Linked DNA regions of Homo sapiens. The protein of the gene in region 1 purifies or fractionates together with the protein of each later gene. This does not show direct contact. Each region holds a gene or a part of one and is shown in the gene's direction. Other genes may lie near its edges. The genes, in order: RBPJL, PCDH7 and BORA.

Region 1 (3,656 bases):
TCACCCTAACCCTCACCCTAATCCTAATCCTTACCCTCACCCTCACTCTAACCCTCACCCTAATCCTAACCCTCACCCTCACCCTAACCCTCACCCTAACCCTAACCCCAATCCTAACCCTAACCCTATCCCCTCACCCTAACCCTGACCCTCACCCTCACCCTAACCCTGACCCTCACCCTCACAGTGTGCATATCCTCCGGCTCAAAGGTCTCCCTCTTCAACCGCCTGCGCTCTCAGACGGTCTCCACACGCTACCTCTCTGTGGAGGATGGGGCCTTTGTGGCCAGTGCACGACAGTGGGCTGCCTTCACGCTCCACCTGGGTAATGACATCTGCAGGCCCTGGAGCTGGGCACTTCACATGCATTAGCTTATTTAACCTCCACCACAACTCCTTAAGGAAGGTAAACTCTGCCCCATGTGATTAAGGCTCAGAAACACAAAAAGACTTGACTACAGTCCCAGTGAGCTGGTGACTGTTCCAAGCTATTCTGACTCCCTTATCCATGCCCTTTCCCCATATATCAACTAAGCTGCCTGCCCCCAACCCCTGCCCCCAGGGCAGACATTTGTGAGGATGGCCTCAAATGGCCTCTCCAGAATTAGAACCTTCAGTTGGCTCCCCTGAGTACCAAGCTTTCCCGCAGGGCCCATGTGTGATGTGAGGAAGAGCCAGAGGCAACAAGGCAGGGTTTAAGGCAGAAGCTTGGGGGCCGCTGAAAACCTTGTCCCTTGCTTTTTTTGTCCCCCAGCTGATGGGCACTCTGCCCAAGGAGACTTCCCACCGCGAGAGGGCTACGTTCGCTATGGCTCCCTGGTGCAGCTCGTCTGCACGGTCACCGGCATCACACTACCTCCCATGGTATAGGAAGGGAGGGCATGCCTGGAGGGGTCCCCTCAGATCCATGCAGAGAATGTGGCACACACGGGCAGGGCTGGAGAGTGAGGCCCCAAGGCATGGAGACACCTGTTCTCACCCAGTGTCGCGTAGGACCAGACAGAAGTCAAAGGGCAGGGGGAATCTGCTAGTGCCTGTGTGGCTATTGGAGTAGCAGACAGCCGGCTAGGAGGGCAGCCTCTGGACGCCCGGGCTCCTTGCCACCACTGTTCTTACCATCCTTCCATTGCAGATCATCCGTAAAGTAGCAAAACAGTGTGCGCTCCTTGATGTGGATGAGCCCATCTCCCAGCTGCACAAGTGTGCATTCCAGTTTCCAGGCAGTCCCCCAGGAGGGGGTGGCACCTACTTATGCCTTGCCACAGAGAAGGTGGTGCAATTTCAGGTAAGAAGCAGAGAATACCAGCACCAAGTGTCCTGGAAAGGGAGAATGCAGAGAACCACAGAATGTAAGATCATCACCCTCACCATGGTTGCTACTTCCTGAGCAGCCTCCCATGGAACATTAAAATCATAGACTCCCAGGACAGAATCATAGGATGTAGAAAAATAGTAATAAGTAATAGTATGAAGCAATATTCCTTCCCAAAGAATTTTAGAGTCATAAAATATTGGGATATAGCCAGGTGCGGTGGCTCATGCCTGTAATCCCAGCACTTTGCGAGGCTGAGGTGGGCAGAACACCTGAGGTCAGGAGTTCGAGACTAGACTGGCCAACATGGTGAAATCCCATCTCTACTAAAAATACAAAAATTAGCTGGGCATGGCAGTGGGCGCCTGTAATCTCAGCTACTCAGGAGGCTGAGGCAGGAGAATTGCTTGAACCTGAGAGGTGGAGGTTGCAGTGAGCCAGGATCACACCATTGCACTCCAGCCTGGGTGACAAGAGCAAGACTCCATCTCAAAAAAAGTAAGTAAATAAATTGGGATATAAAATTGTAGGATGTAAATAAAAATCATGATAGGTAATAGAGAGCAGAGAATTAATGAGCAAAGACTATTCGAAGCACAGATAAAGACACAGAATGTGGAAAATTATAGAATGTGGAAAATAATAATTATCGTTAAGCAGTAGTACTCCCAAAAGAATATTATCATAGAATGTTACGAGATAGAATTATAATATGTGGAAAATAGCAAGTATTATTCCTTCCCCAAGAATATTCCTTCCCAAAGAATATTAAAATTGTAGATTATTAGAGCATAGAATTGCACAATGTTAAAAAAAAAAAAATTCTGGAATCCCAAGAAAAAAGACCCTTAGAAATCAGCTATCCCAGGCCGGGCCAATGGCTCATGCCTGTAGTCACAATACTTTGGGAGGCTGAGGCAGGAGGATCACGAGGCCAGGAGTTTGAGACCAGCCTGGCCAACATGGTGAAACCCTGTCTCTACTAAAAATACAAAAAAATTATTTGGGCGTGGTGGCTGGCACCTGTAATCCCAGCTACCCGGGCGCCTGAGGCAGGAGAATCATTTGAACCCGGGAGGCGGAGGTTGCAATGAGCCAAGATCAGGCCATTGCACTCCAGCCTGGGCGACAGAGCGAGATTCAGTCTCAAAAAAAAAAAAAGGAAGAAAGGAAGGAAGGAAGGAAGAAGAGAGAAAGAGAGAGAGAGAAAGAAAAAGAAAGAAAGAAAGAAAAGAAAGAGAAAGAAAAGAAAAAGAGAAAGGGAAAGAAAGAAAAGGAAGGAAGGAAAGAAAGAAAAAGAAAGAAAGGAAAAAAGAGAGAGAAAGGGAAAGAAAAAGAAAAGGAAGGAAGGAAGGAAAATAAAGAAAAAAGAAAGAAGAAAGAAGAAAGAAGAAATCAGCTAGCTCAACAAGCTTTCTTAACGCTAAGTGAGAGAACTTAAGGGCACTGTCCAAGCTGAGGGGACAAGTGAACCCCAGAGCCTAGGATTAGTATCCAGTTCGGTCTAACGCAGAAGCCCACGCGCCATGCTGGCTCCCTACACTGGTGGCCACCATGAGAAGCTTCGGCCTCGTCCCCTTGGGTCTCCTCCCAGGCCTCTCCCTGCCCCAAGGAGGCGAACAGGGCTCTGCTTAACGACAGCTCTTGCTGGACCATCATCGGCACCGAGTCGGTGGAATTTTCCTTCAGCACCAGCCTGGCGTGTACCCTGGAGCCGGTCACTCCGGTGCCTCTCATCAGCACCCTAGAGGTGAAGCCGGGCGCTAGGGGCGTTGGGCAGGGGGACCCTGCCTGCACTGGGCAGTGGTGGTGCTAGTGAGTGGGGGGCAGCGGGTTCCCGCCCTACTTGGTTCTCTCACCTCACCTGGTCCCACCCTCCCCCAGCTGAGCGGCGGGGGCGACGTGGCCACGCTGGAGCTCCACGGAGAGAACTTCCACGCGGGGCTCAAGGTGTGGTTTGGGGACGTGGAGGCAGAAACCATGTACAGGTACGGGGTGGTGAGGCAGCCTCTCTTGGGCCCCGGGGAGCAGGGGAAGGGGGTGCACGCGTCGTCGGAGTCGCCGCAGCCCTCACCCTGGTGCTCCACCCCCAGGAGCCCGCGGTCCCTGGTGTGCGTGGTGCCGGACGTGGCGGCCTTCTGCAGCGACTGGCGCTGGCTGCGCGCTCCCATCACAATCCCCATGAGCCTGGTGCGCGCCGACGGGCTCTTCTACCCTAGTGCCTTCTCCTTCACCTACACCCCGGAATACAGCGTGCGGCCGGGTCACCCCGGCGTCCCCGAGCCCGCCACCGACGCCGACGCGCTCCTGGAGAGCATCCATCAGGAGTTCACGCGCACCAACT
Region 2 (3,656 bases), on another chromosome or scaffold:
CCAGCCATTGTCAGTAACATAGTAAATTGTGGAGTTCAACTGGATAGTTTCATAAAATTTTTTAAAAACAAATTAAAGGCTGTACATGATTTTACTTTATTGAACGAATCACAAACAGTAATATTAAGAACATACAATTAAACTTTATAGTTTATTTCCTACTCACTGTTTAGGGATACTTTTATCTATTATTGCAATATGACTCTTACAATTTCAAGGTCCATAGGCAATATTTTTATAGGAATGATGTAATAAACATATTTGTGTTTCCTAGCACTGCATCTAAATTCCTATTTGTCAGCTGTACTTTGAACAGTTTAAGTCAACTGCCAACCCATTTGATTTTATAGCTTTGTATGATATGGACAAAGTATTTAAAAATTGAGTCTTCTTACAATGGATTAGTTCAATATTTACTGCCTTCACAAATCACTGACCTTGTTTTTTTAGAGGCCATTTCTGGAAAGCATATCTGAAGTGAATACTATAGAATAGAAAAAGGTTGAATATGTGGAACTAACATATCAGATTTAAATGTATGTTTTAGTGAAATTACTGTTTTTTTATCTCTGTTTCTGAAAGGGAATTTCCAGTTTTTCCATAATAAAATCTAAGCTCTAGACATTGCCTTAGATAATACATAGTTAACTAATGCAGTTTCAACATATCTATTCATTTTGTATTGAATTAGTTGCCAGTAGACCTTAATGTATGTAATTTATGTATTTTTTAAAATAAGATCATTTACAATCTTACATCGTAGTGACATTCAGAATCTTTTCTTTTGCAGCCATTTCGTAGAGTGACGTTTTCTGTTGTGAGTCAGCCTCAGGACCCACATCAGGGGTCACTGCAGAGTTGCTATGACAGCGGGCTGGAGGAGTCAGAAACACCAAGCAGTAAGAGTTCATCAGGGCCAAGACTGGGTGCGCTTCCACTCCCAGAGGACAACTATGAAAGGACCACGCCGGATGGCAGTGTTGGTGAGGCAGAGCATATGGAAAATGGTAGGGGCAAACACAACATCCACACACATAATCACGCTAGTGAGCCGTAATAAGTAGACTCGCGAAGGTCAGTCTAAAACCAAAATAAAATAGCTGACATTAAAACCATTTTATTTTAAGTGATAAATATTTGCTAAAATACAGAAATGCCAAATAAAGGAACATAACTCTGTAGATAAAATTCACCCAAATTGCACCATCATTTTAAAACATCCTGTCAGAAATAAACGCACTTATAAATAAATCAGAACAGGGCCCACTATGAAGGAAGCTAAATAAGTGCAGAATTCCTAAACAATAGTCACCAAGAAAGGTCTTGTCTAATTGTTTTCTTCTATTCATTTTTGTCATGCAACTATTTCTTCAATTGCAGCTGTCCAGTCTTAGTGAAAGGAAATGAAAGAAACATACCTTGCTCTACCTTTTCTTGTCCTAGATGTTTAGAAAAGCATTTTCAAACCTCTCCTTTCCTATGATCACTGAATAGGGTCAAAAGAGAACAGTACTACTTTGTTCTCCATAGTATGCAATAAATGCTATTAGAATTTCCCTCCTATTCAAGTATAAGGTTTTTTTTTATTTTTATGTGAGAGAAAGGAAGGAAAATAAATCATAATACTCCATATTTTTATACTGTTTTGAGGTGATTCTCATAATTACCACAATTGGCCTTGTATACATTTTCTTTTAAGTTATACATTTAGATTGCAAATAGCACTTATAAAACTTTCCACATTTGTTTATATTCCCAGAGATAATTTGGTGATTTATTTTCTGGATTTTGAGTCATAAGTAAATGCCTGAGGAATAGGTTTGTGTCAAATAATGGAATGGTAAAATTCATCCTAACTTCATTATTCTTTCAAATATGAAGAGAGAGATGGTTAAACAGAGAGAAAGGAAAGGAATCACACACATTTTATCCCTAGTAAAACTTGCAGTGGATTTATGTCTTTTGCCATCTCAACCCCCGAGTGACATAAGACGCTCTAACTTTTTGTTATATATCCGTTTCTTTAGTGCTGATATATATGCAAGTAGAGCATATTAATGCAGGAGAAAGACTGATTTTCTTCTGTAAGTTTACCTATGAATATTAAAATCCAATATTAGAATATAATATATTATAAAGGACCCCAAATGAAAGTATTGCTAAATTATATTATGCTAAATAATTATTTATCCACATTGTTCTTGGTTAAGAAAATATGATATCAGGGTCTGATGATTGACGTCCCTCTTGATTAATTTTGCAGAGTTAAAATGGCATTTTGCCTTATGGCTATAAAAGCATGCTTATCTGTGTGTATGGTGGTGTGTGCTTATGTGGATGGGAGTCTGGTGTGGTTTCTAAGAGTTACATTTTTTTTAGTAATTTTTTTAATGGGCATATAATTTTGGTATGAATTGCAATGCTGATGAATATATATTTAAGGCAGATATGTTTAAAATTATTTGGAAAAAGAAATTAAACTAAAAATACTGTAATTACATACATACTATGTAATTACATATGTAATTTGGATGTCAGCTTTATTAAAAAAGGACTTTGTACCCCTGGCATTATAATCATTTTTCAATGTTAGTTTCTGTTTTATGAGTTTATGGGGATTCATCACCTTTAAAATAAGAAATAAGTGATGAATAATTAAAAGATAATTATGTAATTACATGTATGTAGCCACATGTAATTGCATGTATGTAGTCACATGTACTATAGTGTATTACGTTACATATGTGTAACGTGTAATTACGTATGTGTGATATATGTAATATATAATATGTATATAGTACATATAATTACTTATATGTACATATGTATGTAATTACAGTATTTTTAATATAGATAGATGATAAATAGAGCATACCTAGGAAGGCAGGATTAATTTAATTTAGGGGTATTACTACATCTGAGATTACCTGTTCATGAGAACATATAATTTTGTTTGTGTTTTTAAAAGTGCTTATTCTTACTGTAAAGCACAGAATGTACAATTAAATCTTTATTTTTTGGATGTCAGCTTTATTAAAAAAGGACTTTGCACCACTGGCATTATAATCATTTTTTAATGTTAGTTTCTGTTTTATGAGTTTATGGGGATTCATCACCTTTAAAATAAGAAAGAAATGATGAATAATTAAAAGATAATTATATATGACAAACACATATCGGTTACCTTTTAGGAAACACACATGTCATGGAAAACTTAACAGGTGAGCTTGTTAATAAAATATAAAGTATACTGAGAAAGAGTTCCAAAAAACGACTTTTAATTCTTTTTTAGAACCAAGTTTTTAAGGCCTGTCAAAAGCAAGGGTCATGATAATGTAACGGATCTTTCCTGATTTTGTATGTGACCAACACTTGAAAGTCAGAGTTTATATGACCATTTGTCATCTACTGGCTGTGATTCATGTTAGCCTTGATCTATAGGTAATGACAAAATGAGATGCGATGCACTGTGGCTGATCTAAATGTAGCAGTTGACCTTTGAGTAACAAATTTGTTGGGTCCGTGTTTTCAGACTACTCATCTAGCCATAAAGTGCAATTGTGTTGCTTAAATTCTGGTAATTTCATCTTCAGTATTAATGGATCATTCTGACATAAATAGAATTGGAATTGAAACCTGTCAAGTATTCATTTGTC
Region 3 (3,656 bases), on another chromosome or scaffold:
TCAAACATAGTGCATGCTGGCTTCTTAAAAGTTGAGTAACAGAAGTATAATTGCCCTTTAAAATGACTAGCTTTGCCTTTTCTCCTATTATTAAATATAGGTGACTATTTTAGAGCTGATGAATTTGCAGATCAATCTCCTGGAAACCTCAGTTCTTCATCCCTCAGAAGAAAGCTGTTTTTAGATGGGAACGGAAGCATCTCCGACTCCTTACCTTCGGCTTCTCCCGGAAGTCCTCACAGTGGTGTTCAAACATCACTAGAGATGTTTTATTCAATAGATTTGTCTCCTGTAAAGTGTAGGAGCCCCTTGCAGACACCAAGTTCGGTGAGAAGTATACTAAAAAGCAGTTGGCTAATATGCTGTCAAGCTTGAACCCACATTTTGTTGTTGTTCTATCTTAGGCTTTCAGCAGCCTGAAGCCATGGTTGCTTTCTGTCTCTAGTAAATAAGTGGAAAAGAGGGATGAGGAAGGGCCTTTACTGGCCTAACCAGAAACAGAAACTAAGAACTCATGACTGTATTCTCTCCCTTGGACACCCCTGTGAGCTGCCCAGATTGCTTTCAGAAGGAGGGATGGTTGTCTTTTGAGTATTATGCTTCACAGAAACTAACTCTAGTTCGTATGTTATCATTAGTCATAGGGATGTTTTAGGTCAGACTCTTCAATTTTGTATTTAGATATGTACAGGATGACCAGATTTATCATGAGTCTCAAGGAAATTCAGCATAGGTTATTTACTAAAGTGTGTGAGATTTACAGTATAATACAACTGGCTTGGCATTAATAAATTTAAAAATTTTTCACAGATGGTTGCTTAGTGTGAAACTTAATGGTTTGTTCAAATACAATGTGTTTATATTTTGACTAACATATTTGATACTATTTCAGAATTTTTGTAGCAATCTTCTTAGTTGTCTTTGTTGCAAGGTGTCTTTTGGTGGTTCTCGTGAACTATTACTAGTTTATAAGTGTGTTTTGAAGACCATGATAAATAGCATGCAGCATAAGAGTTAAGGAAGAGAACCATATACATTTATTTACTATTTAATTTTATTACAGGGGCAGTTTTCTTCTAGCCCTATTCAGGCTAGTGCAAAAAAATACAGCTTGGGAAGCATAACTAGTCCTTCGCCTATTTCTTCACCCACTTTCTCACCAATTGAATTTCAGATAGGAGAGACTCCACTCTCAGGTATGTCTCATAATAAAATACCTAGTTAAAAGTTTTATACTATCAATATTTGTTATTAGAGAGGTTCTTTTAATTTGTCTTAATGATAGAGCTCAAAATGATCACTAACCTTCTAACATTTAGGAACTTTGATTTTTAAATAAAAGAACAGTTTACCTTCAAAGGCTGGAATTCTCACCAGTTTGTACTGTAGTGTTAAATATAGTTACTTTAATTAGCAATATTTACATCAAACACTATCAAAGGAAATTTAGCAATTTCCATTTGTGCTATTGTTTTTGACATCACAATTTCACTTTGGTAAACAACACAACTGTTACAGAAATGCAGTTTTTCCTGGCATGAAACATGATTACCATTTAGTAGTGACTTTTCCATTTTCATGTTTTTATGATGTGATTTTTTTTCCCTTCCCACCTTTCAGAACAAAGGAAGTTTACTGTTCATTCTCCTGATGCTTCATCTGGAACAAATTCTAATGGGATAACTAATCCGTGTATCAGAAGTCCTTATATAGATGGCTGCTCGCCAATTAAAAATTGGTCTCCTATGAGACTTCAGATGTATAGTGGTGGTACTCAGTATCGGACCTCAGTGATTCAGATACCTTTTACTCTTGAGACTCAAGGTGAAGATGAGGAAGATAAAGAGAATATTCCTTCCACAGATGTCTCATCACCCGCCATGGATGCTGCTGGAATACACCTACGGCAGTTTAGTAATGAGGCTTCTACCCATGGTACACATTTGGTTGTGACTGCCATGTCTGTTACACAAAATCAGTCCAGTGCTTCTGAGAAAGAATTAGCACTGTTGCAGGATGTTGAAAGGGAGAAAGACAATAACACTGTGGATATGGTTGATCCTATAGAGATAGCAGATGAGACCACTTGGATTAAGGAGCCGGTTGATAATGGCAGTTTACCCATGACTGATTTTGTAAGTGGCATTGCCTTCAGTATTGAAAACTCTCATATGTGCATGTCACCTCTTGCTGAAAGCAGTGTCATTCCTTGTGAAAGCAGTAACATTCAGGTAAGGTATTTAATATTCTATAGCCCCTTCCTCACTGCCTTGGTGTTCTTTATCCTTTCTAAGATTATAGTATAAGAAAGATAATGGATTAAACATGAGGACTACAGTATTATATAATATTTTTTAAAAATATTAATACCAAGTGATATGAGAAGAGTAAATTTATTTTAATTATGACAGATAAGGCATATTTTATATTCACATTAACTGATATTTGTATGGAGTAGGAAAAGGTAAGAGCAGAAAAGAAATTAGCCTGCTCTAGAGAAATCAATCCTGCTAGAGTCAGGCAGGATTCATCACTGTTTCATGTGGATCCAGTCCCCCAAAACATGCAAGGTCTGGTATAGTATTTGCATTCTAAAAATAAAATCATTTTTGTTTTTCCTTTATGTGATTTAGGGGGGATAAAAAGAGTTTAGAGCACTGGTTTTTTTTTTGAGATGGGGTCTCACTCTGTCACCCAGGCTGGAGTGCAGTGGTGTGATCTTGGCTCAGTGCAACCTCCACCTTCTGGGTTCAAGCAATTCTCCTGCCTCAGCCTCCTGAGTAGCTGGGACTACAGGTGTGCGTCACCACACCTGGCTAATTTTTGTATTTTTGTAGAGATAGGATTTAGCTATGTTGGCCAGGCTGGTCTCGAACTCATGACCTCAGTTGATCCGCCCACCTCAGCCTCCCAAAGTGCTGGGATTATAGGCATGAGCCACCGCGCCTGGCCTTAGAGTTCTTTTATGTATGCATTTTTGTGCTTTTCTTTTAGAAACATGATTTATAGCAACATTTTTCATGAAATTATACATTTCCAATTTTGCAATGTCTCTGACAACAGGAAAACCTGATTCATTTAACAGATACGTATACTTCATAATTAGCACTTTGGAAAGGCATTTGTTCCATTCATTGTTGTGTTCTTTGAGCTGAGAATTTTGAAGGAACTTCTTTAGAAGTTCTGACTTTAGTCAGAAGGGGATAGCAATAACATCTAACACTAACGTAGCATTACTATGTGCCAAGTCCTATTCTGAGACCTTTACATGTTTTACTTTGTTGAATTTTTACAGCAATCCTGTGAGGTATGTGTACTGTTATCCCTGTTTTACAGATGAGGAAACTGAGGGTCAGAGAGGTTAAGTAAATTACCTAAAGTTTCTATACAACTAGTAAGTGGAAGAGCTGAGATTTGATCCCAGCAGTCTGGCTTTAGAGTCCATGTTCTTTAATCCAAAAGTTAATACTGACTTATAATAATAGCTAATACGCACATAGTGTTTTGATATACCAGGCACTCTTCTAACCACTTTATTAATTCATTTAATTCTCACACCAACTCTATAAGGCTTTAGTGTTGTCAGTTTTGGCATGCTGAAGTTAAAACTCAGGGAAGGATTCTAAATGACCCAAAATTAAATATAGTATTTTGCT

What was found.
Region 2: the proteins of RBPJL (region 1) and PCDH7 purify together in Homo sapiens (affinity purification with mass spectrometry; one large-scale study listed by BioGRID and IntAct). This does not show direct contact.
Region 3: the proteins of RBPJL (region 1) and BORA purify together in Homo sapiens (affinity purification with mass spectrometry; one large-scale study listed by BioGRID and IntAct). This does not show direct contact.

Annotation. Positions count from the first base shown.
Region 1 is NC_000020.11:45,313,281-45,316,936, forward strand, and holds part of RBPJL (recombining binding protein suppressor of hairless-like protein), read left to right. Parts: intron 1-187; coding exon 188-325; intron 326-754; coding exon 755-864; intron 865-1,132; coding exon 1,133-1,285; intron 1,286-2,906; coding exon 2,907-3,062; intron 3,063-3,196; coding exon 3,197-3,300; coding exon of another isoform or gene 3,301-3,310; intron 3,311-3,405; coding exon 3,406-3,656. UniProt on the Homo sapiens protein: Putative transcription factor, which cooperates with EBNA2 to activate transcription.
Region 2 is NC_000004.12:30,919,363-30,923,018, forward strand, and holds part of PCDH7 (protocadherin-7 isoform d precursor), read left to right. Parts: intron 1-790; coding exon 791-1,007; intron 1,008-3,656.
Region 3 is NC_000013.11:72,744,881-72,748,536, forward strand, and holds part of BORA (protein aurora borealis), read left to right. Parts: intron 1-100; coding exon 101-327; intron 328-1,063; coding exon 1,064-1,196; intron 1,197-1,620; coding exon 1,621-2,231; intron 2,232-3,656. UniProt on the Homo sapiens protein: Required for the activation of AURKA at the onset of mitosis.